2 separate regions of the Homo sapiens genome follow, and region 1 is reported to be linked to region 2. Evidence: microRNA targets listed by miRTarBase, many of them from high-throughput screens and not tested one by one. Region 2 holds a microRNA gene; the other region holds the end of a gene's coding sequence.

What was found. The annotated mature microRNA hsa-miR-324-5p reads CGCAUCCCCUAGGGCAUUGGUG and lies in region 2 at 4,904-4,925, shown strand. An mRNA with a match to its seed (bases 2 to 7 or 8) in the 3' UTR can be bound and repressed. Matches are read on the target gene's strand: a 7mer-m8 pairs with bases 2 to 8, a 7mer-A1 pairs with bases 2 to 7 and ends in A, and an 8mer does both.
Region 1: miRTarBase lists RAB1B as a target of hsa-miR-324-5p. The part of its 3' UTR that is shown has no 7-base or 8-base seed match.

The regions. Positions count from the first base shown.
Region 1 is chr11:66,275,438-66,282,661 of GRCh38, reverse strand. It overlaps RAB1B (RAB1B, member RAS oncogene family), which reads right to left. Exons shown (of 6, transcript NM_030981.3): 5 at 6,727-6,858; 6 at 5,170-6,618. The coding sequence ends at 6,424. It overlaps CNIH2 (cornichon family AMPA receptor auxiliary protein 2), which reads right to left and starts at 4,487. Exons shown (of 6, transcript NM_182553.3): 1 at 4,125-4,487; 2 at 335-403. The coding sequence starts at 4,205. It overlaps LOC107984340 (a long non-coding RNA gene), which reads left to right and starts at 4,137. Exons shown (of 2, transcript XR_001748274.1): 1 at 4,137-4,167. RefSeq lists an enhancer at 1-216 and a silencer at 4,382-4,711.
Region 2 is chr17:7,220,896-7,228,267 of GRCh38, reverse strand. It overlaps MIR324 (microRNA 324), which reads left to right and starts at 4,889; the gene lies at 4,889-4,971. It overlaps ACADVL (acyl-CoA dehydrogenase very long chain), which reads right to left. Exons shown (of 20, transcript NM_000018.4): 6 at 7,210-7,344; 7 at 6,586-6,730; 8 at 6,187-6,316; 9 at 5,966-6,091; 10 at 5,403-5,601; 11 at 5,031-5,135; 12 at 4,538-4,624; 13 at 4,393-4,455; 14 at 4,199-4,300; 15 at 4,025-4,122; 16 at 3,875-3,947; 17 at 3,716-3,788; 18 at 3,554-3,626; 19 at 3,384-3,459; 1 more. The coding sequence ends at 3,171. It overlaps DVL2 (dishevelled segment polarity protein 2), which reads left to right. Exons shown (of 15, transcript NM_004422.3): 10 at 224-291; 11 at 485-613; 12 at 733-864; 13 at 999-1,178; 14 at 1,629-1,847; 15 at 1,955-2,926. The coding sequence ends at 2,403. RefSeq lists an enhancer at 2,813-3,312.

The sequences.
Region 1 (7,224 bases), not on the chromosome of region 2:
CATGTGGCCGCCAGGGGGCGCCAGAGCGATCTCTGCGGCACTGTCGGCACGGCCGGGAAGCAGCCGCGCCGTCCCCATGGCGACCGTCACCATGGAAGGGCCTTCACCCGCGTCTCCATGGCAACGGCCCAGAGCCTGGCAACCACCGCCCCGCCAAGAGGAACTCAGCCCTGAGCCCGCGCCAGGTGTTTGCTGGGGGCGGAGACAGAGAGGAAGGGGGCATGGCCGTAGGCCCCCCACCCCACCCCCGTCTTCCCGTCTCCCACCCCCAGCCCACGACAGATGGAAAGACAGACGGACGGACACACCTCGGCACAGCACATGTATCACTTACTGCCCGCGCAGGGTTCCCCTGGTCGATGGGGTTCTTGAAGTCGGTCCGCAGCTCATCAAAGGCTATGATCTGGGGGAGGGGCGTGTGCCCGTCAGGGTTGGGGCAGCAGCTTATGGCCTTCCCCCAAGTCCTTCTGTGGGATAGTTTACTGAAGAGGACCAGCCAGGTGGAGCTTGTTGCAAAGGTGGAGAAACCGAGGTCCAGGGAGGAGCAGGGCCTGGTCCAAGGTCATTACAACAGTCCAGAAGGGAACCCTAGCGTCTGGATGCCCAGTTCAGGCCCATGTCCACTACACCCCCTTCCAAAACATCCCAAGACATGGCTTCGTGTCTGCCCTGCCAAGTCTCAGGCCCTGTGCTGAGCACTGGGGCTCCAGAGGCCTGGGATGCAGCCCCTGCCCAGGAGGAACCCAGGCCCAGAGGGATGATCACTCTGCCTTCCAGGTGATCAGGGTTTGGGGTACAGGGAGGACCTGGAGTGGGCGCTTAACCCTGTGTGGGGGGTGAGGGAGTTCAGGCTGGACTCGGAGTAGGTGTTGGTGAGCAAATGGGGGAAATGCAGTCCAAGCAGTAGAAGGTGCAATGGCAGAGGGGTGAAAGGTCAGGAGACATTCAGGAGGCTGCGGGTTTCATGGGGCTGGCGTGACAGCGCAGCGAGCAGGAAGAAAAGAGAGAGTGGTGGAAGAGGAGCTGGAGAATTCAGCAGAGCCAGACATGGGCGCCCTGTGAGGCCAGAGCAGGAGTTTGGACTTACTTTAACACAAAAATTTTGGGGGGAGGCATTGAAGAGTACACAGCAGCAGAGTGGGGTGGTCAGGTCCATGTCTTAGGATTGGTCCATGTCTCAGGATTGGTGGGGCAGGAAATCCGAGCTCACTGACAGTCACAGCTGAGATCTAAGTGGTGCTTCTCCTGGCCGGTATGTGGATTCACTCATTTAATTCTTAACAACCTTATGACTTAGGTACTAGTTTTATTTTCATGTCTGTTTTGCAGATGAGGAAGCTGAGGCAGGTTAAGTGACTTGTCCAGGGCCACACGGCTGGTTAGTGGATTCTAACCCAGTGTGACTCCAGAGTTAAAATTCCTAACCACTGTGTCATACTCAGGCCAGACCAGCAAGGGGACGGTTTGGAGGGTTAGGGGCAGGGCTGATGGTGGTCTGAGTGAGGAGAGTTGTAGTGGAGACGGAAGGCGTGCATGGGATTCTACAGCTCTTTAGGAGCCAGACTCCAGAGGGTTCAAATGGCTGAGAAGTGAAGGCAGAAATCTAAGGTGGCTTCAGGTGTTGGGGTGTCTGGCAGACGGCAGTGTCCTCACGGGTGGAAACTCTCCAGGGGAGCAAGTGTTTGAGGGGATGATGGGATGGGAAGGAGCTGACAGGTGACTTGGGGGAAATGGGCTGGCAGAGGAGCCTGCTGGGGTCCCCTCCTGTCGGCTCCAGCCCTAGGATGAGGCAGCAGGCCCACCACCCCCAGGCATCCCAGGCCCCAGACGGCTCAGAGAGAAAGAACATGGGCTTCCTGGAGGGAGCTGAGGCCATCTGGATCATCCCCCCTCCCCGCCCAGCTCCCCATTGACTCTGGGCAGCGCCACTTGGCACGCACAGCAACAGGGTCCACAGGGAGCAGAAGGGTGCCGTCTGTACCCCAGAGCTGGCACCACCAGCAGGCGGCGGGCGTCACCCCTCCCACCCCCCAGGCTGCCTGGCGCTGACTCAGCCCCCCGGAACAAACAATCCCCCATGGTGACAGCTGACACGCGTCACTCACCGCCAGGGTTGCCTAGGAACCACTGGGGCCTGGGCTGAGGGTCTGGAGTGGGATCTGGGGTCCCGCCCTGTTAAGAGTCTAGTTCTTAGCAGCTGTGGACTGAGGACCACGCCTCCTATCCCCTACCACCCAGCAGGCCGCACTAGGCACTCTGATGTGCACAGGTCCACTTTGCCGGCGAGGAACCAGACTTGGGACAAATGACTTGCTAAGATTGTCCAGCTAAATGGCTGAGTGGACAGAGTACCTCACACAGGTGCTCAATCAATATCTGTTGAATGAACAAAGACATTTCTTCAAAGCTTGGGCCTTTCCTCCCAGCCTGGGCACTCCACAAGGGCAAAGTCTGGGTTTTATTCATCCTTGACCCCCTCAAAGCCACCCAGAGCCTGATCTTTGGGAAGCATCAATGCAGGCGTGGTGGATAAACTGCTGAGGATCCCCTGAGGACAGGGACCCCACAGGGGCTGTGGGAAGGCCCTGGGTGGGGAAGGCCCCAAAAAGAGGCTTCTTGAATTCCAGGAGCCCTTCTCCCAGGAGCTGGTCAGCTCTGCATTCCCTAGCCTGTGGCCCCCAGCTCCCTCCAGTCCTTAGAACCCTAGCCCTCCTGCCCCTACCCCACAGAAAGAAAAATAGAGTAACTCGGGGTGCGGGGGAGAGGGGGAAAGACAAAGCAACCAAGACCCAGAGAGAGAGCAGAGCCAGGCCAAGGAGTGACAGGGCTGGAGCTGGGGTGTGTGCTGAGGTGCCTTTGGGGGCTCACTCTTCACACAGTAGGGGTTCAGTCTATGGATTCCCGATGTCAAAGAGCAAGGTGGCAGGGGATGGCAAAGGGAGCGCAGGGGGAACCATGGAGCAGGCGGCAGGTCCCAGGAAGAGAAAGGAGAGAGGAAGTGGAGAGCCCGGGAAAGAAGCAGGTGAGGCACCGGGAGGAAGGAGGGAAGGGCTATGGGAAATGGGATTGAGGGAGGGATAAGAGGACCCCTGAAAGGGAATGACAATCAGGGAGGTGTGCGCGGGAGGTGTGAGCAGAGGATGCTGAGCTGAGCCAGCCAGGGCCGAGCTGGGCAGGCTGTTACAGAAACAGGCACGGGGTTTGGGTGGGGGTGGGGACGGAGGGCAGTAAAGTGGGGCCAGGGGCCCCCAACAACCAGCTGGAGGCTGATTGATAGTTCTGTAGTGAGGGGACGGGAGCCAGGCAGAGGAGGCCCTGGAGGAGAGGAGCGGGAGGGGAGGAGGAGGGAGCCTGGGGGAAGCGATGGGTCGGATGCAGGATGAGGAATGGACATTTTGAAGAACCAGGTGTGAGGCTAGGCCAGGGCGAGGGACAGACCAAGGGGTATGTGAGAGACAAAGGGGAAGGGGGACAGGAAGAGGAGGGAAGCTGGAAAATGGAGAGGAAACCTGGGGGGCTGGGAAGCCCCCAACAGGAGGGGTAGGGAAACCCAAGGTGAGCCGGTGGTGGGGGCTAGGTCTCTGGGGGCTGATGAGAGCCAACTGCTGCTTGGTCAGGGAGGGGGCTGGGAAGGCAAAGGGTTAATGGACTCTGAGATCTGTGGGTCCTGTAAACAGATGCAGTTGCCATAGCAACCAGCTCCATCACTCTGGCTGGAAAAACCCACAAAGGCGGGGGGGGGGGGGCAGCAGACAGACAAACTGCCCGACGGACTAATGGAGGCGGCTGGATGGTGGTGGGGGGGGACATAGAAGATAAAGCAACAAAAATGCCAGAATTCCACCCCCCACCTCACGGGCTGCATGGGAGCAGAGGACGAGGGCAGAGGAGGGGGTCAGAGACCGACTGACATACACACAGACAGGCGGGGGCGGCGGAGGAAGGGGGGCCCCGGGAAGAAAGCCGACCACGGGGGGTGTTAATGGGGGCGAAGCCGACAAGCCGACGGCTGGGGGATAGCAAGTTTCCCCTGGGCTCTGAGACCACCCGCCCTGGGTCCCTCCAGCTCCGCGTGGCCCCTGCCCCCCACCCCGCCCCCAGCCCCAGCCCCAGCCCGGCCTTACGTGCCAGATGACAAAGAAGATGAGGGAGGCGCACAGCACCAGGGTGAGCATGTAGCAGAACGCGGCGAAGGTGAACGCCATGGCCCCCGCGCCGGGCGGCGGCCCGGGGGGCGCCAGCGCGGGGCCCGGGCGCAAGGGGACGCCCCCCGGCCCGCGCTTAGGGCCGGCCGGGCATGGCCCGTGGGGCTCGGGGGACGTGGGTGATGCGGCCGGGACCGGGACCGCGGGGCCGTGGGGGGCGCGGGGCGCGGGCCGGTGGGCTCGGGGGGCGCGTCCGCTGCCGGCTGCCCGGGCCCCGATCGCTCATCCTGCGATCCCTCGCCCGCGGCTCCCTCGCTCTCCAGCCCGCGAAGCCGGCGGGGCGGAGCCGGGGGCGGGGCCGCCGCGCGAGCGGCCTCGGGCGGGGCTGGGTCTCCGCGGGCCCCTCGTCTGCCCGCCCGGCTCGGGCGCCACCCCCAGCCCCGACAAGCCCGCGGCCGTTCACCCTCCGGACAGCGTAGACGCGGCCGCCCCCGGCACCCCGCACCCCTCGGCACTCCAGCCACCGGCACAGCCGCACTCGGCCCCCTCGGGCGGGCGCTCAGGGCAAAGGCTGAAGTGCGAGGCACTTGTCACTGTCGGAGACGGCAGAAGCACCTGGCTGGGACACACAATGACGCCAGGACAGGGGCTGAATGGGAGCAGTGGGGTTTTGGGGGGCGCTGAAGGAGGTTGGGCCAGGTGCAGTGGGGGCCCTCTCAGCGGCTGCGCGACCCCACACCTCTGCCGTGTGCCCCGCGGGAGTTGGCGGCGGCACGCCAGGTATGAGCTGATGGCCGCCTGCCTCTTTCCCTGACAGAACGGTGCTGGGCCCTTGGGGACAGACCACAGAAGCACAAGCAGCTTTCCTGGCCTCAGGAAACGGGGTCAAGGGCTTTTGCCAGCAGCCTTAGGACACAGAAACCAAGCCAGGACCCCCGTGCACCCCACCAAGCCCAGGGTTCCAGTTCCATCCCCCCACCCCAAGGCTGGGCTTAGACCACAGACCACACTTGGCCACCACAACTTCCTTGCAAAAACCCTCAGCTCACCCGAGGGCCAATGGAAATTTATTAATTTTTTTTGTCCTTTTCCATCTTTCCCCAAGTGGCTTTTCCTTGCAAAATGCCTGACATGACACCAGAGGGGAACCTGGGAGCGGGGGGCACCCCAAGGGGGCAGCCCAGGGACTTAAATACAAGCTGGAGGGCAGGGCACAGGTGGGACAGGCAAGAGACAGCACGAGGGACATGGCTTCTCAGGGAGACCAAAGACTTGCTTTCTTGCAGGAAGCAGCTGTGCCAGAGGGCAGGGGACTAGGATCCTGGGTGCAGAGTGGGTGAGCAGAGAGGCCCCCAATCCTGGATGGAACCCACATTCCCCAGAGAAGTAGCGGCAGGGGATGAGGGCCTTCCCTGGTGGGCTCCAGAGACGGAGTGGGGAGTGAGCCAGATGTGCTACCTTGGGGAAAGGGAGGAGGTGCTAGCAGAGTGAGGGTTAAGGCTGGTGCCCAGCCTCTGGCACGGTGGGCCTTCCGCCTCCGCCTGACATGGGGACAAAGGGGCACGGTGGGCAGGCAGCGCATGGGTCTGTCTCTGGCAGGGCAGAGGGCGGCAGGAGCAGACTCCCTCCAGGCTCAAGACACAGGCCCAGCACTGCTACCCGCCCACCCGCCCTAGATATACTCAGATCCCACCGCAGCTGGACGGCTCGAGCTGGGAGTGTAGGAAGGGAGAGGAGGCAGTGGGGAGAGGAAAGGGTGGGCTGCTGGGCCCCTGTGGCCTCCATGCCTGTCCTGAGGTCCAGCCCAGGGCCCTGGATCCCAGGTCCTGGATCCCCTGGCCACATTCCTCGCCCTGGGCACTGACTGCAGCCAGGGCAGTAGAGGCCGGGGAGACCCTCAGTTCTTGGGCAGGACAGCAGGAAGAAGAAGGAGAGAACCCAGTGCAGCATACATGGGGGTGGGAGGGACACCGACAGAAGAGCCCTCGTTCCAAAGAAAGGTGTGTAGGGGGGCATCTTGGAAAGTCACCTAGAGGCAACAGCACAGCAGGCCTCCGCCCTGCCTGGCCACAGGCCCTGAGTGTCCTCCCTTAGGGACCCTGACAGAACCGGGGCTCAGGGCAGCAGGCAGATGGGCCAGAAGGAGATGGGGAGCCCAGGACACCCCAAAGCCACAGACTCAAATGCCCCAGGAGAGGGAGAGGGAGGTACCTCCTGCCCCCTCCAGGGACATCATCTGGAGAAGGTGCCCCCTCCTGTCCCACTCCATGTGCCCCTCCTAGCAACAGCCACCGCCAGCCGGCTTTACAGGGGTGCTGTCGATCTTGAGATTGGGCCGCTCGCCCCCAGAGGCTGCTCCAGGCCCCATCCGCTTTTTGATTTCAGCAGCCATGGTCATGAACGCCTGCTCGACATTGGTGGCATTCTTGGCGCTCGTCTCCAAGAAGGGGATGCCCAGAGAGTCTGCAAACTCCTGACAAGGGAGAGGAGAGAAGAGGAGGGGAGAGAAGAGGAGGGGAGAGCAGGTGAGGGGCAGCAGGCCCCAGCGCCCCGACCCCGGGCAGACCGGCCCGTCTGCTACCTTGGCTGTGGTGTTGTCCACCACCTTCTTGGTGGTGAGGTCGCTCTTGTTGCCCACCAGGAGCTTATTGACGTTCTCGCTGGCATAGCGGTCAATCTCCTGCAGCCACTGCTTCACGTTGGCGTAGGATTCCTAAAGGGGGCCAGGGGCCAAAGTTATTTTGCTCCCAACTGTCACCCCTACCCCAGGCCTGGAGAAGACCTTCTCTGAGGGGAACAGTACAGCTCCGGGCCCCTTAAGTCCTGGGCTCAGCGATGCAGAGATGCAGAGGAAGCCCTCTGCTCCAGGCTGAACCTTCCTCCCTGCCCTCTTCCATCCGAGACCCAGAACAGCCCCAGCAGCCTGCCAGCTGCCCCAACACCTCAACAGCTGCCCCAACTTGGGCCTGCCAGCTCTGCTCCCTGCAGCTGTCTCTCTCCCTGAGACACTTGCAGGCCCTAACCACATGTGAGAAGCAAAGAGAGAGCGGACGGGAGATAGGAACAGAGAGTAACGGGT
Region 2 (7,372 bases):
GCGTGTACTCTCTTGTCTCACTTGGCAGTATGTTTTTAAGAGTTTTCCATGTTGATGAGTCATCCACATTGTGGTGCCTTCCACCCTCACCTTCTCTAGCCCAGCCGCGATGTGCTTGCTTCTCCCCCTCTTTGTGTCTCTTAATCCATCCTTGCTTCAGACCCCCGCCCTCCTGAGGCCTCCTCTTCCCCTGCGCCCTTGACTGGACTTCTCTTCCCCATAGCCCCATTGTGCTGACTGTGGCCAAGTGCTGGGATCCCTCTCCTCAGGCCTATTTCACTCTCCCCCGAAGTGAGTGACACTCAGGGAGGGGCCTGAAGTTGGGGGTGGGGGCTGCCCAGGAGGCTGGGGCCGGGCCTGTGGTCATGGGGAATGGGTGGGAGGAGGGTCCAGGCAGAGGTGGAACAGGAGGCTGAGTCAGGGAGGGACTGGGCTGGCTTTTGGGGACTGAGAATGGGTCATTTTGGTGCCATCTTTGTCCCAGATGAGCCCATCCAGCCAATTGACCCTGCTGCCTGGGTGTCCCATTCCGCGGCTCTGACTGGCACCTTCCCAGCCTATCCAGGTTCCTCCTCCATGAGCACCATTACATCTGGATCGTCTTTGCCTGATGGTGAGCCGCCAGCCCACCTCATCCCACCCTCCCAGCAGAAGGCTGTCCCGCAGTGGTCTGATCCATTGCCCTTGTGGGAGCGATCCCTGACTCTGGTTACCCGTTGTCTCCTCTGCCAGGCTGTGAAGGCCGGGGTCTCTCCGTCCATACGGACATGGCATCGGTGACCAAGGCCATGGCAGCTCCAGAGTCTGGACTGGAAGTCCGGGACCGCATGTGGCTCAAGATCACCATCCCTAATGCCTTTCTGGGTATGGCTGGGTCCTGGGCAGGTGGCTGGAGAAGGGGAGGAGGTGGTGACCAAAGCCAGGAATGGCACAGGCAGAGGCGAGAGCAGGAGTTGGAAGAAGAACCTGAGGCCTTTTTCCACTGTGGGTGCTCCCAGGCTCGGATGTGGTTGACTGGCTCTACCATCACGTGGAGGGCTTTCCTGAGCGGCGGGAGGCCCGCAAGTATGCCAGCGGGCTGCTCAAAGCAGGCCTGATCCGACACACCGTCAACAAGATCACCTTCTCTGAGCAGTGCTATTACGTCTTCGGAGACCTCAGTGGTGGCTGTGAGAGCTGTAAGTCCCCCTGCCCCAACTCTGGGAGTGTGGCTTTGCCTACCTTGTTCTGCCTCTCCAACCCTAGACCTAGCCCAGAAACCGCAGCCAGGGCCACCATGGATGGTCGAGCAGTGTGTGTCCCGCACTAGGTCCTGCACTGGCCGAGGATGGGGGCTGACGTCCACCCATGTGCTGCTGGACAAGCCATGTGCCAGGTGCAGGACTGTGTCCACCGGGGGAAGGTGCACCTCTTACCTGAGTCCCGCAAAGACGTGGGCTAGTGGCTGTGCCCCTGCCCTCATGGCAGAAGTAGATGGGAGTTTCTTGTCAGAGACCCTTGTGAACCCCTGTTTTGAGCCCCATCGTGGGTGGGTCTGGGAGAACTGTTCCCAGTTCCTCTCCATTCGGTGTCTTGGGGCCCTAGCCTCTTGAAGCAGTGATTTCTTCCTCTCTTCCCTTGCTTTCCAGACCTAGTCAACCTGTCTCTCAATGACAACGATGGCTCCAGTGGGGCTTCAGACCAGGATACCCTGGCTCCTCTGCCTGGGGCCACCCCCTGGCCCCTGCTGCCCACTTTCTCCTACCAATACCCTGCCCCACACCCCTACAGCCCGCAGCCTCCACCCTACCATGAGCTTTCATCTTACACCTATGGTGGGGGCAGTGCCAGCAGCCAGCATAGTGAGGGTAAGTCATCCCCACATACCTGTACGGCCAGGATCTGAGGGTGGATGAGAGGGGAGCCAGGGAGGAGCCTGGGTGAGGACTCAGTTGCCCCTCCCCTCCCTCCACAGGCAGCCGGAGCAGTGGGTCGACACGGAGTGATGGGGGGGCAGGGCGCACGGGGAGGCCCGAGGAGCGGGCCCCCGAGTCCAAGTCCGGCAGTGGCAGTGAGTCTGAGCCCTCCAGCCGAGGGGGCAGCCTTCGGCGGGGTGGGGAAGCAAGTGGGACTAGCGATGGGGGCCCTCCTCCATCCAGAGGCTCAACTGGGGGTGCCCCTAATCTCCGAGCCCACCCAGGGCTCCATCCCTATGGACCGCCCCCTGGCATGGCCCTCCCCTACAACCCCATGATGGTGGTCATGATGCCCCCACCTCCACCTCCAGTCCCTCCAGCAGTGCAGCCTCCGGGGGCCCCTCCAGTCAGAGACCTGGGCTCTGTGCCCCCAGAACTGACAGCCAGCCGCCAAAGCTTCCACATGGCCATGGGCAATCCCAGCGAGTTCTTTGTGGATGTTATGTAGCCCACTGTGGGGCCAGGCTGGGCCGGGCGCTCCTGGTGTGTGACTGGGTGTCCTGGCCGTCATGTGCTTGCTCTTACAGTGCCTGGGCTCAGCCTACCAGCTGCTGCCATACAGGAGATTGTGGCCACTGTGACTCTCACCAGCAGTGCCTGGTTCCTCCCCCTTCCCTCAGGGGTAGACAAGGGACCTTTGATTATTTTTAGCTTTGTTTTTTTATAAGCCTTTTTGGGGGTTAAAATAGAGTTTCTTACATTTTTGGGACTTTTTTAATAGGCATTTCCTCTTTTATATGAAGAATTCCCATCCATTGGGCCCCTTCTAACCCCAGAATGTGACCTCCTCCTCCAGTTACCCACAGCCCTGCCCTTTGCAGGGTTGGGGGTGGTCAGCGGTACCCCGGGGTTAGGCATCCTAGACAGCAGCCTGAGGAAGCTGGGAGATTTGGGCCATGTAGCTGCCTTTGTTACTCTATTTATTTTAGTCACTTGTATAAAACACCAAATAAAGCAATAGAGGCAAACTCCCCACGCCTCTGGCTCCTTTCTTTGGGAGGGAGGCAGGCAGCAGGGGGAAAGAACCGTCACACAGGAGCAAAGCATGACTGGCTAGAAATTTTTATTATTTGCGAGGCAGTAAGTGCTCTTGAGAGCAGGCACAGTGCTGGGAACACTAGGCCCCTTCGGGACAAACCAGGGCCTTAAGGAAAGGGGCTTCGGCTTTGGCTTGAGGGAAGGCACATAACTGGGACAGGCCCTGGCCGGGAGTATTCAGAAGCCAAGTGGGTTGCTGGTGACCACACCACCCCGCTCCACCAAGGCCTTGGAGATGCTTTTGAAGTTGCGGTAGAGCTCTTGCTGCCAGGGGTCAGACTGCAGGGCGGCCATGCCCTCTCGGATCCGAGCTGCAGCCTGGGGAGAGGGAAGGAGGGGTTGGGCCTGCACCTCCAGCCCTCACCTGAGCTTGGCAGCCCCGAGTCTCACCTCGATACACCAGGTGTCACAGAGCATTTTCTCATGCTGGGCCGTGGGGTGGCCCTCACTCAGGGATCTTGAGGCCCTGGCAGGAAGCAGGAGATGAAAATAAATCTGGGCCGGCTGGGATCCAGGCCCAGGCCCCCTGCGGCTCAGGCATTCCCTGCCTGCCTCCTCACCTCGAGAGAACCACCACCATGGCATAGAGGTCGATGGCCCCGTCTGCCAGCCGCTGCAGCAGAAACTGTTCATCTGTCCGGTAGGTGGGGTGGGGGTGGGGGTGGGGGCATTAGTCTCAAGGAGAGGAAAGGGAGGGGCGGAATGGTGTAGAGCTCACTTACTGACAATCCCCTTCTTGTGTTTTATCAGCTTGGCCTCCACCACAGTGGCAAACTGCTCCAGAGCCCGTACTGCCTTAAGAGATGGGGACAGTGCGGGGCTCAGAGGGGCCATCGGCTGCAGTCCCTGATGCAGGCTCTCCTGGACCCCTGGCCACTTACCAGCTCGCCACTCCGACTCAACTCCGGGTGGACAAGTCCGCTGAGACTCAGGCCGCTGCCCAGCCCTGCCCGCCTGAGAGGAAGAGGGAGAATGACTGGTTAGTTGCCATACACCACCCTGCCCTCCCCTGGCTCTGGCCCTAAGCCTACCGCCTCAGCTGTTTGCCTGCCTCTCCTAGCAGGAGGCCAGCATTCCCAAAGGGATTCTTTAGAGCACTGCCAAGCCCAGAGAGCTCCTTTCCTTTGTCCTATGGGGGAAGAGGGTCCAGCAGTCAGGACTCACTGTCCTCCCCACCTCTACCCCCACCCAATTCTCTGTCTTACCATACAGCCCTGCAGAGCCACAAACAGCCGAAGAATGTCATTTGTCCCCTCAAAGATCCGGAAGATGCGAAGATCTCGGAGCACACGCTCTACTCCAGGTTCCTAGCACAGGGCCACACAAATTATATGCCCGTGCTGAGATGTGCCTACCCACCCCTGGCCCAGCCGAGGCTCTGCAGAAGACCGTCCTGTACCTTCATGAAGCCCATACCCCCCATGATTTGGATGCATTCATCTGTCACCTTCCAGGCTGCCTCCTAGGGACAAAGAACAGATGAGACTGGTTTTGGGAGCTGAGCACCCAAACTGGACTCCCTCCCAGCATGCCTGGGACCTCACCGAGCCAAAGATTTTGCTGATGGCGGCCTCTATCTGGAAGTCCGTGGCTCCCTGGTCCATGTTAGCACTCACCATGTAAGCCATGGACTGAGGTTGCATAGTTGGGACATGGGAAGGAAAATTGCAAAGGGCTTTGTCAGACTTGGCCTCATCACCCAGATCTCCAAGATAAGGGCTGACCTAGCTTGTCAGGTCAGGCAGATACTTGTTCTGGGTCAGTTCATCAGGTGCTTCCAGGTATTTGTTTTCTTAAAAGGGGTGGATGTAAGGGATGAGGTAGAATTAACTTCTGGTACTGCTGGCAGGCACCTGAGCAGAACATCATTGCTGTCTCTCTTCGCAGAAGCTGAGCTGACTATGCCTCCCCGCATCCCCTAGGGCATTGGTGTAAAGCTGGAGACCCACTGCCCCAGGTGCTGCTGGGGGTTGTAGTCTGACCCGACTGGGAAGAAAGCCCCAGGGCTCCAGGGAGAGGGGCTTGGGAGGCCCTCACCTCAGTTACATACTGCAGCATAACCATCCGTGCCAGCTTCTCCTGGATCAGCCCAAAGTTGTGAATTTTCTCCCCAAACTGGGTACGATTAGTGGCATGATCTACCTGGAAGAGGGTCCACACATCCCGCTGTGGTTCAGTGTGGTTCTGCAGTCTCCCTAGGAGAGGGGCTGGGCTTGCGCCAGAGGGATGGGTTTTGCATACAACCAGAGTTCAGTCTACGCTGGATGGAGACCTAAGCTAGCAAGTCGGGCTGCTGGTAGGGGAGGAGTTTCTAGTGTAGGGAGTGCCTGCAAGTGATCAGGGACACATGGCAAGGGGGACAGTGAGACTTCTGTTTGGGTTACCTAGGGACTCGGGCAGGGTACTCACCGCCTTAGCAATGATGCCTCTCATGGTACCTGCCAGGGCCGCAGCCATGCCAAACCTTCCATTGTTGAGGATGTGCATGGCAACCTTGAAGCCACTCCCAACCTCACCCAGCACGTTCTCCGATGGCACCCGTACTCCATCAAAGAACACCTCTGCTGTGTTTGAAGCCTTGATGCCCATCTTCTTCTCAGGGGGCCCACTGTGTCAGGGCAGTGTGGGAAAGCAGAGGTGTGTTCAACAGGTTGTCACTGGGGGAAAAACTGCTCCTTCGCTCCTTATGCACCAGGGAGGAATGACGACCACTAGACTATTAGAGGCTACAGCCACCACTTCCCCTCAGGCCCTGAGGGCTAAGGAGGCCTGGCTATGTCCTATTTTGTGTTGGACTTGGTTGCTGGAGCCAAAACTTTAGCTCAGTTGCATACATATTAGTCCCAAAGGCCACATTCAGTCCACCTGCTTTGGCTTTTGCACACGTCCCCAGGGTGACTTGCAACAGCCATCTGCCCAGGAGCCCAGTCCTGCCCCTCAGTCCTAAGCTCCCCCAACCCAAATTCACTCACTGGGTAATGCCCCCGAAGCCCCTCTCCACCACAAAAGCTGTGATCTTCTCCTTCACGGCTCCTGTGGCTGGATCTGTAACTGGTGTCTTGGCAAAGACCGTGAAGATGTCTGCTAGGCCCCCATTACTGTGGAAGAATGGGATATTCAGGGCGTGGAGGACGGGGAGCAGTGGGGCCTGGAATTGGGCGGAGGAGAAGGGGAGAAATGGGAGGCAGGTTGCCTGATCCAAAGCTTGCTTCCATTGAGGGTATAGTATTTTCCACAGGGGCTGGGCACAGCAGAGGTTCGGATGGAGGCTGCATCTGACCCGCTTGAGGGCTCGGTTAGACAGAAAGCGGCCACAGTCTCCCCTGTTGGGGAGAGAGCTACTTTACCCCAAGTTCTGATGAGCTTCAAAGTCCCCTCGGCCCACTTCCCCATCCCTCCAGCAGGCAGTTCCCCCTTAACACCTGGGAGTATCCAGTTCTTTTGCATGTCCCAACCAGCACACTGTGATGCCTCCCCAAAACCTTCCCCCAACTGAAATGCTCAGCCATCTGATAATCTAAGTGCCAACTGGCCTAATCTGTGCCAAGCCCAGTGTGCCCCCCAATCCCTGGCTCTCCTAGGGTTGCCTCACCAGATGCCAGCTTGGGGAGGTATTTTTCTTTCTGGGCCTTTGTGCCAAAGAGCAGGATGCCTTTGAAACCGATGCTCTGATGGGCCCCCAGGGTAATGCCCACGCCAAGGTCATGCATGCCCACGATCTCCACCAAACGGGCGTACTGGAGGGGAAGCAGGAATCTGGGGTTGTCACTGGCTGCAGGGGGACCTGACCTTAACAGGAGAGTGTGGGCAACAGGGCAGTTCCTGACCTAGGGCAGTTCCTGACCTAGGGCAGTGCCTGACCTGGGCCATCCCCAGTGTGTAGAAAAGAAGTGGGGTGTGCAAAGGGCACAGCAGAGAATGCTGGTCTGTCTTAGGTCTAGGTAGGAGGGTGACTTGCTACTAGTCAGTCTATTGTTAGGCAATCCCCAACTTAGAGATTTGTAAGGACTTGGGAACCAGGGTGAGGCCCATGGCTCAGGCCTAGGGGACTGCATGTAAATTGTGTTATGTTTGGACAGTTAACATCCATCCCACAGGCACCCAGGGCAGGTGCTTAGAAGAGACCTTAGCCCTAGTCTCTAGGTCTATGGCAAAAGAGCTGAGTCTGCCAAGCTGGGGTATGGCATACTGGGATGTGGCGATAGGGCGCCCTCACCTGGGTGTTGCAAAGGCCCACACCACCCAGCTCACTGGGCACTTGCAGACCAAAGGCCCCCAGCTCCTTGAGGCCCTGCCAAGTGGTCTCCTCCACCATCTCCAGAGCGTCATTCTTGGCGGGATCGTTCACTTCCTGGGGAAGGCACAGGATCCCACATCCA